2 separate regions of the Homo sapiens genome follow, and region 2 is linked to region 1. The links come from fine-mapping of genetic effects on gene expression. A gene starts in region 1. The other region holds a variant in brackets. All regions are shown on one strand. Distances are between the middles of the regions. Region 1 holds the start of FLVCR1-DT (FLVCR1 divergent transcript). Region 2 overlaps BATF3 (basic leucine zipper ATF-like transcription factor 3).

Region 1 (2,903 bases):
CGATGCTGGGGCGAGAAATAAAGTTCGTCCTGGGCCTGCGTACGGTACAGCGCCCTTGGGAAGCCCTTGTGGAGTTAAGGGTGATGCCCACTTCTTTGTCTCCCTCATTCTGTTTCGGTGGCTCTCTCGTTCCCAGTTCCAAGCTGCCCACTTGTTAGAGGAGCCACTGCTTACCAGGCATCTGGTTTAATAAAACATGGCTAGAGCGACTGCATGTTAAAGTGAGTAACTAGGCACTCACAAGGCACCTATAAGGTTAATGCTAAAGGTCTGAAAATAGCCGCATTCTAAGCTGACCAACAATTATAATTACACAATATTTATGGCCATACAGGACATCTCCCACCAAGTCTGCGGAATTGTCCAGATGTCCTGAGTTTTTTTTTTTTTTTTAGACAAGGTCTCACTTTGTCGCCCAGGCTAGGCTGGAGGGCAGTGTGGTGCGATCTCAGCTCACTGCAACCTCCGCCTCCCAGGTTCAAGTAGTTCTCCTGCCTCAGCCTCCTGAGTAGCTGGGACTACAGGCATGCACCACCACGCCTGGCTACTGGCTTTTTTTTTTTTTTTTTTTTTTTTAAATAGATGGCATCTCAGTATGTTGCCCAGGCTGGTCTCGAACTCCTGGGCTCAAGGGAGACTCCTGTCCGGCCTCCCACAGTGCTGGGATTACAGACGTGGCCACCGAGCCCGGCCCAGCCCTCTACTCAGAGATAACGTCAATGCGCAGGCTTAGGTTGAAGGATTAATGGTCATTAGTGCACCAACAGCCCCTACCTTTAGTGGGCACATCAGCACATTCCACGATTAATCACAGCTCCTCACAGCTGCCTCTAAGTAGTGACACTACCGAAGGACGGGAGTTCCTCCTCCTGCAGTCTGAGGACTTGCACTCTCTAACGGAGTAGATTCCAATAAACTTGCTTCCTTCACTGCGCTCTGTGACTCGCCTCCAATTCTTCCCTGAAGTAGACCCAAGAACCCTCTCTTGGGGTCTGGATCGAGACCCCTTTTTCCAGCAACACAACCCGCGGGGCCGCCTCCCGCCCACCCTCAGGTGCAGGAGACCCCGGGCCATGCATCCTTCCGGGCAGGAAAATGTCAGCCAGCGCTCGCCGGCCGCTTTCCTCCCCCGCCTCCCGAAGTTCTCGCCCGGTAGCTCCCCGACTGGCTCTCGCGCCGGACAAAGGCGCACGCTGATTGGCCGGAGGGCCGTAGTCATGCAGGACGCGCGACTCTAGGGGCGGGACCAGACAAGGGGTGACTGCCGCGCGGCGCGGGGGAGGAGACCTTCATCTGTTCACGCGGTAGCGCGGATTGCGGTTCGCGGCGCGCGCCACCGGGGAAGGAGCGGTGGGCCGAGGGGTTGGAGGTGGGGCCCCAGGAGGACCTCGGGCTGTGGGCCGGGAGAGCGGAGTCGGGGAGTGGGGCGGGGGAGCGAGGTGGCGCCGGGGAGCCTGGGATATGGCGCGGCCAGACGATGAGGAGGGGGCGGCGGTGGCGCCCGGACACCCGCTCGCGAAAGGATACCTCCCGTTGCCGAGGGGCGCGCCCGTTGGGAAGGAGAGCGTGGAGCTGCAGAACGGGCCCAAAGCGGGCACCTTCCCGGTGAATGGGGCCCCCCGGGACAGCCTCGCTGCCGCCTCGGGAGTTCTGGGCGGGCCTCAGACTCCACTGGCCCCAGAAGAGGAGACCCAGGCCCGGCTGCTGCCTGCGGGCGCGGGAGCTGAGACCCCGGGGGCCGAGAGCAGCCCGCTGCCCCTTACGGCGCTCTCCCCGCGGCGCTTCGTGGTGCTCCTGATCTTCAGCCTGTACTCGCTGGTCAACGCCTTTCAGTGGATCCAGTACAGCATCATTAGCAACGTCTTCGAGGGCTTCTACGGTGTCACCTTGCTGCACATCGACTGGCTGTCCATGGTGTACATGCTGGCCTACGTGCCCCTCATCTTCCCGGCCACCTGGCTGCTGGACACCAGAGGCCTGCGGCTCACCGCCCTGCTGGGCTCCGGCCTCAACTGCCTGGGTGCCTGGATCAAGTGCGGCAGTGTGCAGCAGCATCTCTTCTGGGTCACCATGTTGGGCCAGTGCTTGTGCTCGGTGGCCCAGGTGTTCATCCTGGGCTTGCCCTCCCGCATCGCCTCAGTGTGGTTTGGGCCCAAAGAGGTGTCCACAGCTTGTGCCACCGCCGTGCTGGGCAATCAGGTAAGTACTGGAGTGGTAGGTGAAAGTCAGATCCTTAAAAGACCGGAAAAAGTCATAGGCCGTGAGAACTATGGCCTGTATGGATGAACTGCCCCAGGAGGTATTTGTCTATAAAAGAGGAGATGAAGCCGTTGAATAGGAGGCCGTCTTGGATTGAAGTGGGCTATAAATTTCTTTGTAAGGACAAAATTTTCCAAACGACCTTGTCATCTTGCTTTGAAAATTACCTATAAAATAATTAACTGGGCCGGGCGCGGTGGCACACACCTGTAATCCCAGCACTTTGGGAGGCCGAGGTGGGTGGATCACTTCAAGTCAGGAGTTCCAGACCAGCCTGGGCAACATGGGGAAACCCCGTCTCTGTTAAAAATACAGAAATTAGCCAGGCCTGCTTGCGGGTATCTGTAGTCCCAGCAACTCAGGAGGCTGAGGCAGGAGAATCTCTTGAACCCGGGAGGTGGAGGTTGCAGTGAGCGGAGATTGCACCTTTGCACTCCAGCTTGGGTGACAGAGTGAGACTCTGTCTCAAATAATAATAATAAACTGTAACCATAATAATAATAATAATAATTAACTGTATTGGCTTGTGTATGCCTAACATGGAAAATTTGTCAATGCAGTAACGAACAAGACTTGGGGTATTATTTTTGTCACCAGTGTATTTGTGAAAGGAAGGTATTGGGTTCTGGGAAGATTGTTTCCAT
Region 2 (2,903 bases), 170 kb before region 1:
TCCAGCACTCACCTGTTCAGTTTCCTCTCCATCAGGGTTTACAGAGGCGTAGAACTGCAGGGTATCAGAGAGGTCCCTTAGCCCAATCCACACAATGTAGAAACCATCCATATCCAACTTGTTCTGGGCACTCCTGCCCTCAATGGACAGACTGTCATTTCTGGGCTGCTCTACTAGACAAATCCTCTTTGTTGGGCATGGTGACTCATGCCTGTAATCTCAGCACTTTGGGAGGTCAAGGTGGGAGGATCACTTAAGGCCAGGAGTTTGAGACCAGCCTGGGCAACACAGTGGGACCCCATCTCTAAAAAAATTTGTTTTAACTAGCCAGGTGTGGTGATGCACACCTATAGTCTCAGGTACTCAAGAGGCTCTGCCAGGAGGATTGCTTGAGCCCAGGATTTCGAGGCTGCAATAAGCCATGATTACAGCACTGCACTCCAGCCTGGGTAACAGAGAAAGATCCCAACTCAAAAAAACAAAAAGAGGAAGAAGAAAGAGAGAAAGAAAAAAAAAGAAAGAAAGAAAGAAAGAAAGAAAGAAAGGAAGGAAGGAAGGAAGGAAGGAAGGAAGGAAGGAAGGAAGGAGAGAGAAAGAGAAAGAGAGAAAAGAAAAAAAAAAAGAAAAAGCTCTTCTTTGTACTGATCCAAACACTCTCACTTTCAAATGTACCTGTTGGGTTTGGTTCCATTTAATAGAACCACATCTAGTAGATCCAATGCTTTTTTCAATATCGCAGTTCTTGAAATGTTAGGATACAGCATCTCAGGTCCTCTGAGTTCCTTGCATCAGGCTCTTCTTTGCCATTCTGGGGACCCTCACCAACACACACTCCAATTTACCAGAATATCTCAGAAAATGTTGCTCCCAGGATGCAATGCATGGTTCTGGAGACCATGCCAAGGGCAAATGTGTGGCAGTGACCTCTCCTGTGCTGGGCCCAAGCCGCTGAGGATTCTCTCTGAGCCTGCAGAGAAATGCAAGCTTTATCTGCATGTGCTGCTTCTCCGTCCGTCCTTGGATGATGATGGATGCTATGGGGCTTAAGGGTAGGATTTTACATCCATCTCCACTGAATTTCATTCCTTATTTGGACATCTTCCAGACCAGCAAAATTGCAAAATCTTTTGGAATCTCAATTGCATCGTCTCATGAATGGTGACAGCACACAGCTTTAAGCCATCCACTAACTTAACACACAGGTCTTCCTTTTCTTCATCCAAGTCATTAATAAGTTCTACAAAAAATAGCCAATGGCAGAGCTCTACGGCATGCCAATAGAGACCCTCTCTAGGCTGGCAATCTCATTTAAATCTTGCTGAAATGTTTTCGTTCATTTCTAGTTTATAGTAAGGCTTTGTTGTACCATGCACACCATGCATTTCCCAAGCTCAGGGCCCAATTGCGTTACTCATCACACTTTCTCTCTGACTAGTAATTTTAAGGGAGTATCACTAAAGAAATGTGATCTTATAGCCCCCAAAGACACATGCAAATTCTCAACCCTGCCCCTTTGCTCTTGCAGTTATCCTCAACTGGACTGCCTTCCTCCTTTTCTGCATGGGTCCAGCTCAAGCCCACCACCTCCAGGAAGGCTTCCCTGACCACAGCACCTACAGGAACCACATCTTTTATTATGTGTTCTATTCTATTTTGTATCATATTCAATTTCACTCATATGAA[G/A]TAATGTCTCCCCCCAAAGATCAGAAATGTAAAGGACCTAGGAACTTCTGCTACTCCTCTCCTCTACCCCCTGCCTGATGCGCCACAGCACCAGCACCTACATGCTCAGTGATTCCTCAGCCCTCATCCTCTGTTTCTTCTTTAACCCCATCCTTTCCTTTCAGAAGGGACTCTCAGCATCTTCCTCCCTTTAAGAACCAAGGGGTCTGGCGGGGCTGCCTGTAGGGTCTATCTGAGCCATTCCCCAGGCAGGTTCCCAGGGTGGTCTGGAGCACTCTCCAGGGCAGCAAGCTGTTCTGGGGCCATGTGGCTTCACCAGTACACTGGCCCCATTCTGCCTCTATCCTCCTCCCTGCCTCCCACTCCCAAGCCTTCATGCCCTCCTTTGACCTCTGACAAGCTCTAGTTCTGGAGTGAGAATTCTGTCTACAAATCCAGCCATAAGCTCTCCGTGGGCAAGGGGAGAGTCTGGATGGGAGGATGGGATGGAAGCCAGGGCGTCAAGGGAATCATGCAGGCAGCAGAGGGATGAGAAAAGCTGCAGCACACACACACGTCTGCAAACACACACTCACACACTCTCATACACATTCACACACTCTTACACACATACACATATACACACACTCACACACGTCCGCAAACACACTCACACACTCTCATACACAGCCCGACACACACACTCTCACACACACACACTCATACACAACCACAGACACACACACAGATACACACAGTCACACACACATCTGCAAACACACTCTCATACCCAGCCACAGACACTCTCACACACATACACAATCAACACACAGTCACACAAACACTCTCACAGTCACACACATACAGTCATACACACATACATACACCTCACACAGTCACACACACTCACAAAAACTCAGACTCACATGCAGACTCCCCACATTCACATTCACATACACACTCACACACACACACTCCACCCTGCAGCAGGAAATGCCCTTGACTTTCAAGTAAAATGGAGAGTACATTTGAATAGTTCCAATGTGCTAACATTTTAAGTAGATTCCAAAGGACAAGAAGCCCTCTTCCTTTGGTAGAATATTCCAAGCTGCCTTTCTACATATACTGAATTCCGCAGCAAGACGCTCTGAGCTTCCCAGTTTTGTCTCTGGAAGCCGTGCGCAGCCCTGTGGCCTGAGGCTTCCCTGAGGTCCACTGCCCTCCCCCAACCCATGCTTAGA

Evidence for each region. PIP is the estimated chance that this variant, and not a neighbour inherited with it, causes the effect.
Region 2: its variant is the best candidate, but not a certain one, in a credible set for the expression of FLVCR1-DT in aorta (GTEx, PIP 0.61).

What each region holds. Positions count from the first base shown.
Region 1 is chr1:212,856,992-212,859,894 of GRCh38, forward strand. It overlaps FLVCR1-DT (FLVCR1 divergent transcript), which reads right to left and starts at 1,147. Exons shown (of 2, transcript NR_027286.1): 1 at 775-1,147. FLVCR1 (FLVCR choline and heme transporter 1) reads left to right here and starts at 1,284. Exons shown (of 10, transcript NM_014053.4): 1 at 1,284-2,199. The coding sequence starts at 1,462. RefSeq lists silencers at 1,385-1,444, 1,525-1,734.
Region 2 is chr1:212,687,455-212,690,357 of GRCh38, forward strand. The region is part of intron 2 of BATF3 (basic leucine zipper ATF-like transcription factor 3); the gene reads right to left. Among named protein-coding and RNA genes, the nearest start is that of BATF3, 11 kb to the right of the region's middle. The variant G/A (reference allele first, on the strand shown) is at 1,684.